2 separate regions of the Homo sapiens genome follow, and region 2 is linked to region 1. The links come from fine-mapping of genetic effects on gene expression. A gene starts in region 1. The other region holds a variant in brackets. All regions are shown on one strand. Distances are from middle to middle. Region 1 holds the start of TAFA2 (TAFA chemokine like family member 2). Region 2 has its middle 25 kb from the start of TAFA2.

The links. PIP is the estimated chance that this variant, and not a neighbour inherited with it, causes the effect.
Region 2: its variant is fine-mapped to the expression of TAFA2 in whole blood (INTERVAL, PIP above 0.99). The same link has a PIP of 0.9 or more in monocytes.

What each region holds. Positions count from the first base shown.
Region 1 is chr12:62,190,488-62,195,487 of GRCh38, forward strand. It overlaps TAFA2 (TAFA chemokine like family member 2), which reads right to left and starts at 2,286. Exons shown (of 5, transcript NM_178539.5): 1 at 772-2,286. RefSeq lists an enhancer at 1,678-2,211 and a silencer at 3,581-3,875.
Region 2 is chr12:62,214,885-62,220,419 of GRCh38, forward strand. It overlaps a transcript of TAFA2 not described here. Among named protein-coding and RNA genes, the nearest start is that of TAFA2, 25 kb to the left of the region's middle. The variant A/G (reference allele first, on the strand shown) is at 2,195.

The DNA of each region.
Region 1 (5,000 bases):
GAGACATCTAACCGGAAAGAAATAAAAAACCATTAGTTTCCCGAAGCCATTCTTATTCTGAACGCTGTTCGTTAAGAGAATCATTTACTAAAGCTCTCTTGTAGTAGCCTTTACAAAAGCTTTATTTCATTCAGTAAGAAAGCGCCCCGTCCCAAATCTAAATAAACCTTACATAGATGAGGCTCCGGAAATTATCAGCTTGATTCTTTATGAAGATAGTTAGAGGTGGATAAATCAATAGACTCGCTGAAACACCCACCTTCTGCAAACAGGCCTGAGAATTAACTAATCAGAAGTGGACAAAAAGTAGGGATTTCAGAAAGATGACCTGACACATCCCATTGATCTTCCCTGGAATGCGACCCCCAACTCCTTATTAAGAGTCCAAAATGGTTACCAGCCAGGATGGGTCTGGGTGAGGAATCGAATTACAACCCACTTCAATCCTCGACCTGGTCGTTTGCTGTTATTAGGAGAAATGGGGCAGAGAGGGAGGGCACCGCTCACGGAGCCTCATTTCGCATGCTCCGATCCCCTCTCGGCGTCCCTCTACTCCGCCCCTACCCTGACCGCCCGCGAGGGAGACGCCGGCCGATGGACCCGCATCTGCCCTCACCTCTCGCCTTCCCCGGGCGATCCCTCTACAGTCCCGGACCCCCGAGAAAGGGGAAGGGAGACGTGTGCACACGGGGGCTTCCGGGACCGCGGTCCTGCAGTTGCCGCTCCGGTCCCCAGCGCTGGCCGGCGACCCGAGGCGCGGCTCGCACCTACCTGCAGCCCCGCTTCCCGGTGGCGGCAACACCTAGCGATGCTCCTGCAGCTTTTGCGGGCCGGCGCCAGCCTTATCGCTCTCGCATCGCTTCCAAGATGCCAATCCGCCGTCACCATCCAGGGGCATAGGGAACCGAAGTCTGGTGCTGTGTGATCGTGGAGGGCGGCGTGTGAGTGTGGCCCTGAGCGTGCGAGTGTGCGCGCGCGTGTGTGGATGTGTTTCCTCCTCCGATGGCAAAGACGGTTCAGGAATCTGACATCCAAGCTGGAATCCCCCTGAAGCGGGTGAAGGTGAGCCTGATCCTTCTCCCCGCTTCTTTATTCCACAGTGTCAAAGTAATCAAAAGATTTGTTTACTGAGGAAAAGCCAAAGTCCCGCAGCCCTTGGCAGCGCCCGCGGTCGCCTCCTGTCCTCGCCGGATGCGCGCGGTGCGCTCAGCTCCCTGGACTGCAAGAATCAAGGCGGTCTTGCTGCAATTACCGCTCTTATTCCATCTCTGATTTGTTTGCTTTTAAGGCCGACTAAAGACTTTTCCTCTCGCCTCACGTCGTCTCTCCCTCTCACACACACACACACTCACACATCCTCCGTTCCCTCTCTCCCGCCCTCCCTCTTGTTCTCTGGGGAAAGGCAATTGGACAGAATGATTCACCTTCAGGAAAGCAGCCTCGGCCACGCACTTCTCGAGTTCCCTGGCTCTCGCAGGTACCGGGTCTCCAACGTGGCGGAGTTGCTGGGAAGCTCGGGACAGGAAGGAGGAGAGGCTCTGAGCTCAGCCGATGTCCCCCCTCCAGACGCCCGCGTTCCTCCGTCCAGGTGCCCCTGTTCCCACTGCTCGCAGATAGGTCCCCGCTGGTGCCCTCGCGGAGACTTGGCGCCTTCCACTCGAATCCACTTAGCAGCAACTCCTGGCCAGCTTCAGCCCCTCAATCCCGCCTCGAAGTGCTGCGGGCAGAGCCCCACGCAGCCCACCCGCTGCCCTTCTAGGCATCGTGGGCTGGAAGGAAGGGAAACCCGCCGATGTCCCCCTGGTAGCAGTGCCCTGGCACCGTCACCACCGAGGAGGTGCGAGTTCCAACATCGAACACAAGCGAGCAGGTGTCGCCTGTGTCACTTTGCTAAAGGCGGGAGGGGAGAAAGAAAGGAGCGGGGGGAGGGGGCCGAGGAAACAAATCCAGATCACCGGCGGAGAAAGAAGCCGTTTAGCAAGCAAAGCCTCCTCTCCGCGTCCCACCCCAGATGCTATACTGTCAAAAGACACTGATGCTAATCTTTTAGAAAGTCGCCATAAAGGGCAGAGCCCCTGCTCCACTCTAGAACCCTATTCCACCCAGCCTGGCTGTCCAGTGAGTACAGAGTGACTTGGCTCCCCCGTATAGTGCAGCGAGAATGCAGGAGAATAGGTCCTGACACTCCAGGTTGAGTTAAGCAGTAAAATGGAATGGCAGGGCCGGGCGGCGTTGCCTCGCCTCTCTCTCCCAACAGCCAGTTCTGTTAGCCCCAGCAACTGCCGTTGAGAGCAAACAACGGTCCTGCAGAAAAAGAACGAGACAGTAAAAGATGAGGAGGCAACTGGTATAAAAGCTGGACTATGTCTCCCTCTAGAGGGTCAACCGGATTAGAACGCTTTACTAGATGTAACAGACCAGTTTCTCTCCATAAAGAAAAAGAAAAAAATATCTGGTTTCAGATAATTTGCATTTTTACAAATTACAACTTCTCAAGGATTTAGACGGAGGATTTTCACTGCAGCCCTATTAAGCAAAGCCCTTGCTAAAGGAACGTCGTGATATTCATGACGCTGGAAGGTCATGTCCTTACATGTTTGGTCAAATTGGGTGTCGGTTTAAGCGCTGTGCATATGAGCTCAAATGAAGGGTCTTCTGAGGCTCACTTCGATCATGTTTGGAGATGAGCAAAACCTTAATCTAGTGATTAGAAGACTATTCAAAAATGAATAATTAGTAAGAATGAATTCAGAAAAAGAAAATCTGAAACAAAGAAAGGGAATGCTGACCCAGGAAATTTTACAAGTCCTTTACAAGGAAAGATAACTCAAGAATCTGGTTTTGGAGCCAGTTTTCATACCTCTTTTTCAACTAGACCAATAATGGTCAAGATAGCTAAATTCCTTCCAGCTCTAAAGGTCTGTGCTTTTATATAGCTGTGATTCACTGAAACCATTGACAAATTAGGTATCACAAGCTCTCTTCACCAGCTATAAAATAAAAGTAATACTACATACCATATTTACAAAGAAATATAGAATATGTGCTTCACTTAGCTATTTTATCTTAACATGCTTAGTAAATCAACCATATTTTGTATCTAAAATGCATCAAGTAATTTAATTATGTTGAGGTGGTCATTTTTATAAAAAATAGCTCCACCGATTTTATAAAGTTTTGTTACATCAGTCCAAATCAAGCTAGGTCCCATCTGTAACCTTAACATTTAGATTTTTGTGAACTTACTATTTGAGCTGGGGGTTTGCTTTCAAAATGTTTCTGTATGTTCAAAAATTGTAAAATGTGTATTAAAGTTATTATTAAACACCCTTCCATTCACTCTGAATTTCTGGAGCAGTTCTATTTTAACTTGATAATCTAAATTAGCACAGTCATAAAGAAAGAAAAGAATGTATTTTTTAAATAGCTGAGACTAGTTGAAATCATTTAAAACAAAGCACCAAAACTAAACAAGGCAAGTTTTACCGTAACTAATTGCTCTATGGCATATTTGACTTTGTCTAGTAGTATACAGCAATCATTTGTTTCCAAGGATCTCTCAGATAGTCTCTTTCAAAAGATTTATGCCATGTGATTAAATATTTCATTCCACTTACATAGTAACTTATATCCAGGAAAGCAACGTTTACATTTTAAAACACCTGGCACTGTTGCACTGCAAATCTTACAGTATTTTTTTGTCTGCTGTGTTCAATAGTGTGATGAAATTCAAGCAGGAATGACATTGGAAACTTGGACTCTGTACTAGAAAGAAGTCACTTACAAAATCACTTTAGAACATTGGCTTTCTTTTCACACACACACACACACACACACACATACAAAAAAACATAAAGCATACATTATAATCTTTCTACCTTCTAATTCATTAACTTTTTGTGGTTGTAATCTATAGTTTTGTCATCTTGTTAAAATTTTATTTGTATTGTTTAAGTGTGGGACATTTTCAGCCTTATTTTTCTAACTAAACCCACTGTGTTTTTACAATATATGAAAAAGTAAAGAGAACAGATATATAAATTAATTACAAAATAGAACAAAATTTCTTATCCAATGTCATATGATGCTGAAATTCTATCATAACCTCTGTGCTTTTTGTAAATAATTCCCAATAATTTTTAGATCAAGATATTCCTATTTCCAGCATCTCCTAGACAAAATAAAATCTTTTGCATTCTCTTCAAAGGAAACAAAGTAGTAAAGATTCTCCTAATTTAACAGAAATTTTTTGTTGATACTTCTTACCTTCTACAGGCATGCCTCAAAAATGTTGCAGGTTTGGTTCCAAACCACCACAAATATTGCAATAAAGTGAGTCACACAATTTTTTTGGTTTCTCAACACATGTGAAAGTTATGTTTACACCATACTGCAGTCCATTAGGTATGCAATAGCATTTTGTCTTAAAAATGTACATATCTTACCTTGAAAATGGTTTAATGCTTTTTTTAAAAAAAGTGTACTGATGATCTGAGCCTTCAGTGATTCCTAATCTCTTTGCTGATGGAGAGTCTTGTTTCAGTGTTGATGGCTGCTGATGGATCAGGGTAGTGGTTGCTGAAGGTTGGAATTGCTGTGGCGATTTCTTAAAATAAGACAATAATGAGGTTTGCTGTGTCAATTGACTCTTCCTTTCACAAAAGATTTCTCTGTAACATGCAATGCTGCTTGATAGCATTTTATCCACAGTAGAACTTCTTTCAAAATTGGAGTTAGTCCTCTCAACTCTGCCACTGCTTTATCAGTCAGGTTTATAAAATATTCAAAATCCTTTGTTGTCATTTCAACAATATTCACAGCATCTTCACCATGAGTAAATTCCATCTCAAAAAAAACTACTTTGCTCATCCACAGAAGCAACTCTTCTAGCATCTAGAATGGTGAATGATCTCCAGAAGCTTTTCAATTTACTTTGCCCAGATCCATCAGAGGAATCATTATCTATGACAGATGTAGCCTAGCAAAATATATTTCTTAAA
Region 2 (5,535 bases), 25 kb after region 1:
TTCTAATATAATATGCCTCAAAGCAGTGATAAGAAGGGATACCACTCTAGAGATACTATCTTTAAAGGCTCCATTTATTTTGATAACCATTTCTACTTACATCCCTGCACCAATTCTGAGACCCACTCTCCTGACTCAAAGGGGCCAGACTAGAGAGAAAAGGAAGTTGTGCAACTCTCACCTAAGAGAGAGTACTAAGAAGTGAAATCATTACTTTTGCACAAGCTATCTCTGTATATCCTCATAAGAGACCAAAACTTTCCAAGACAATCATACCTCCAGGTTTTGGAATTGAAGAACAAAAGTCAATGTCTACTTGTTCACATTTTGGGTTATTGGTAAGTCAATTTTTCACAAATTGTTTATTAATTGAATGCAGATGTGCAGTCACCAAAAGCAGCCCTGTGTGTCTTATCTCTAAATCATTTGAGTTTTCCCTTCTCAGTAGTTGCTCCAACAGTAGGAATAACCTGAAATGGGAAAAGGCAAGGTAATAGGATACAAGAATAACAAATTTTCCAGAACATCTCATAGCCTGGGGAAGTACTGACATTTTCACCAAGCTCTTGCTATTCAACTCTGCTTTTTAGACACAAAAAATTAAATAAGTACAATCTTACTCAGGGAAAATTTACTGCAGCCACAGTCTCTGCTGGAAAAAAGAAAGAACTTGTCTTTCAAAAAAAAAAAAAAAAGGGGCGGAAGAACTTGTTTCTCTTGCTTAAGAGAAACAACTCGTTTATCAAAAAAAAAAAAAAACAAGAGGAAGAACTTGTTTTTCTTGCTTAAGAGGAAGAACTTGTTTCTCTTGCTTAAGAGAAACAACTTGTTTCTCTTGCTTAAGAGAAACAACTTGTTTCTCAAAAAAAAAAAAAAAAAGAGATATGACACTTGCAAGTTACATTTTGTGTGACCTAAACTCCCTGAATCTTGGTTTCTTATTTGTAGACAGAGAGCTCTTATATAATAGCAGCTACTCTAATGATAATGGTTGTCATGAGCATCAAATGAAATTTTATAAGAATTGCTATTTGTAAAGACCAGTGGGTTTTGCCCATCAAAAGATGGGGTTTCTAGAGACCCTGTATCACCATGGCAAGTGAATAAAGTAACAGTTTCCTCAATCCTTCCCCAAGGGGACAGTACCAAAAGCCATTTTCTCAACTAAGAAAATACCCAAATGTTTCAAGGACTTTTGGACACAGAGTCTGAGTTGACACTAAAGCATCATTACATTCCTCTGTTAGAGAACCAGCATATGGGGGTAAAGTAACAAATGGAGTCTGGCCAAGTGCTATCCAATTGCGGGTCCACACACCTATCCAGTAGTCACTACTGCCATTGCTAATTGAATAACAATAGTGGACATGCTTGGTAATTAGCAGAACCCCCATGTTGGTACCTTAGACTGTGGAATAAGACCCATATAGTAGAGAAAGGTAATTTTAAACTCTGAAACTGCTCCTTCCCAAGACAGTAAATTTTAACAAACAGCATTTCATCTGTTTGTTAGTGTGGGTATTGGGGAAGTGGTGGCAGAGATTAATGACACCTTTAAAAACCTACATAATATTTGGTTGCTGATTTTCATCCTATTCCCTTTCAACTGACCAGCAAGGACCCTACAAAAAACAGACATATCTTGGAGAATGACAGTAAAGTAAGGCAAACTCGATCAGAAAAGTAGTTCCAACTATAGATGTTGTCCCAGATGTGGCTTCTTTGCTAGAGCAGATTACCACAAATTCTTAATACACAGTATACTATTGTTGATCTGAAAAACGCTTTATTTTCCAATCTTATTGGAAAGATCAGAAATGGTTTGAATTCACTTGAAACAGATAGGTGTATATGTTTACAGTCTTACCCAAAGCTAGGTTAATTCTTTTGCCCTCTGACATAATGTATTTCAAAGATGCCCGAACTGGTCATTTGTCAAAACATAGCATTGGTTCACTATTTCAGTGGTACCATATTAATTGGACTAGACAAGCAAGAAGTTAGCATATACATTACGGTATACCATATGCATTCCAGAGTGCGGGAGCTAAACCCTATAAGGGTTCAGGGAAATGCCATGTAGGTAGTATATGGGAGTCCAGTGATCTGGTACAAGCTGCGACATCCTCTCTAAATGAAACAAATTATTGTATCTTATATGTCTCTCCGCAAAAAGGGAAGCACCATGCCTGGT[A/G]TTCTGGTATTCCTCTTTGGCTAACATGTTTAACATATTACATATTGGCAAATACTGCTTTTACCCACCCTCTAGATAGCATGAAAGGCTACAAGCTTTGAGTGGGGTCCAAAGCAGCAGACAGCCCTGCAGCAGGTACAGGGAGTACTTGGGCCATATGATCCAGCAGACCTTTCAGTATGAAAAGCATCAGTAATAGGAAAAGATAATATGTGGAGTTTATGGCAAGGCCCTAAAGTAAAACCACAATGTAAATACCTAGGATTCTGGATCAAACCACTCCATCTGAAGTAAGGAGTTACACACCATTTTTTAAAATAAAAGCTCTCTGCAGTGCAACTGGGCCCTGGTAGACAGAGAGAAAAGACAAAGAGTCTAATTACAGAAGATCAAGTGATTAATGGACTAAAACTGTCTGTTATGAGGTAGGTTCTCCCAGAGCTGCCCAAGTCAGCTGAAGAAAGCCTCTTGCCCAAGATCAAGTCCCTTTCCAGAGGGAAGCTCATTTTCAGTGACTGATCCAGATGTAAAGTTATAAGGCCCAGCCCTTCCTTCAAAGTAGGCCAACTCTGAAGGGCCATACCTGTTCCAGAGCTTCCCTCGAGGTGGCTGAAGCCATTATCACAATTGCATCACAGCTCAGCTCTCCCATGAATATTCTTACTTCCTCTGCTCTCTCACAGATATCGATCCCAAGGACATTCTTCAGTAAACTTCTTTCAGACAAATTTGCATCTTAGAATCTTTTTTCCCAAGCAAACATACCTGAGATGGGTACTTACCAAAATGCTATTGAGTTGAGTAAGTGAAAATGAGCCAGGAGAAAAAAGTTTTACTTCTGAACTTTTCAAAACTAATGCTGATTGAATTTATCTATTTTTATGTATGTATTTATTTATTTATTTATTTATTTATTTATTTATTTATTTATTTTTGAGACAGGGTCTCACTCTGTTGCCCTGGCTGGACTGCAGTGATGCGATCATAGCTCACTGCAGCCTCAGCCTCCTGGGCTCAATAGATCCTCCCACTTCAGTCTCCCAAGTAGCTGGGACTACAGGCACGCACCGTCACACCGGGCTAACTTTTTAAATTTTTAGTAGAGATGAGGTCTTACTATGTTGCCCAGGCTGGTCTTGAACCCCTAAACTCAAGCAATCCTCCCCGCTCAGCCTCCCAAAGTGCTGGGATTACAGGAGTGAGCCACTGCACCTGGCCTGAATTTTAATTTGTAAAGAAAAAACAGTGGAAGAAAGGAAATGAGGGAAGGAAAGGAAAAGAGTCTCTCCTACCCGTGTCTGATGAACACATCCCCTATTACTTGAAATGCTAGTATGTGATCAGTTGGGTAGGCTCACATCCCTAGTTATCAAAGTGAGGGATAATGTTAGCCTGGAGAACTACCACAATTTGCTATTCAGCAAAGAAAAAGCTAAATATCCTAACCCAACCCGTACTGTGTTTGCCTCCTGTGAAAATTCTGAATTTCATTCACTCATTTAATAAATATTTATTTAGCACCTACAATATGTCAAGCACAGCTCTATATTTTATAATATAGTACTACTATCTTTACGATCTTTATAGCTTTAAATCTATGAATGAAATAGATGTTTCAGATATTCTTGGATATAATATTATACATAGCCATTTATTTTCTTTCTCTTTTTTTTTGTTGCTTTCTCATTGCAAGTCACAAAGTCAATAAATCAGTGATAATCAGAGTAGATATCTAAAGGACATTTAAATTGGAATAGTTTTCTATTTACCAAAGATATTCTGAAGGACATTTTTCAGGCTGTTACACATTTACATAGGAGATTCAATAATATCATACTTGCAAAGTAGCTAGACATTATGACATTTTGGATTTGAGATGATAGAATTAAAATGACAATATAAGAAAACTGTAATTTACACATAATTAGAAAAGATGAGGACAAAATAGCATTTTAATTACTGACAATGAATAACATACCAGGGAGAATATAGCAAAAGAAAATTTAGTGGGAAAACATTTTTGAAAACACACAAAACAACTTAAGTTTCTCACAGTAAGATTATATCTCTGCAAATTGATGAATAAAAATATGCTCCAGCTTTGAAAAAAAAAACTTAGGTTAACATAAAAGAATTCAAAAACAAAACTAAGAGAAATTCATCTGTGAAATTACTTAAAGTGTAGAGATGAAAAATTAGCTTCGGTTAAAACTGTAAATGAAATCATAGGTCACAATTTTATTAGTCTTTAATAGAAAACTTGAAGAAGTTGCTAACACAAGTGCTTTTGGAAATGCAAAGCATTGGCAGATACAGGAGAAGGTTAGAGAATATTTACACACAGCAACCCCAGAATTTAAATTAAATCTACAGTTAGTCTAAATCACATAAACCTGAATTTTTGTATACCAAGGATGAAGTTATTCGATAATAATCAAAAGTTAATTTTAATAGAAAATTCCAAGTCTTGTTGAATTGAACCTTTGAAATTGGGTGTTTGTTATAAAAGAAACTTATTTTCTAAAGAAAAGTTTGTTCACTTAAAGTTGTAAGCACTATTTGTCATAAGGGGTTGAATTTGCTCACCAAATTTACAATTAAATCACTGACTATATAACCTAACTGCTTTTAATATAAATCACTCACCCAGTACATGAAAACTGTGCCTCCTTCTATTAAGTTATAACTATATCTGCAAGTGTTCCTCTTTCAATAGGTTGTTAAAGTAAAGAAATGATTCTAACACATTACCTTTAAAACACAACACAAAATCTCATTCTTTTGCAGAAAATACTCAACAAGCTAAGCTGTAGATATGAACTATTTTTAAACCCAGTGATCAGCAGATCAAAGAGAATATAAGATGAAAACTGAAAATACCTAGTACATTTTGGGAAGTGGAAAAATCTAGAAGAAAGTTATGGAGCATTTTTAAACAACTAAATTATTGAAATGTTACCAAAAATAAAACAACTGCTCAGATGCAATTGTTTTATTTAATAAAGGCAAAACCTCACTAGAGGCAGAAACAAGCCACCAAATAAAAAAAACCTAATGAAGTTAGAACTAGAACAAAGTAAAAGTCAAATGAAAGAAATGGAAACAATAAACTCAAAGGAAAAATCATTTTAAAAACTAATCATTACTTTTAAAAAATTACAAAATTACACCCACTTACTAAAAAGGAAAAAACTACAAATTAATAAAATGAGAAATAAAATATAAAAAACAAGACAAAAAATTTTTAAAAATATCTAAAACAATAATGAGATACCACTACACACCTGTAAGAATGGTCAAAATCAAAACATTACAACCCCAAATCCTGGTGAGGATATAGA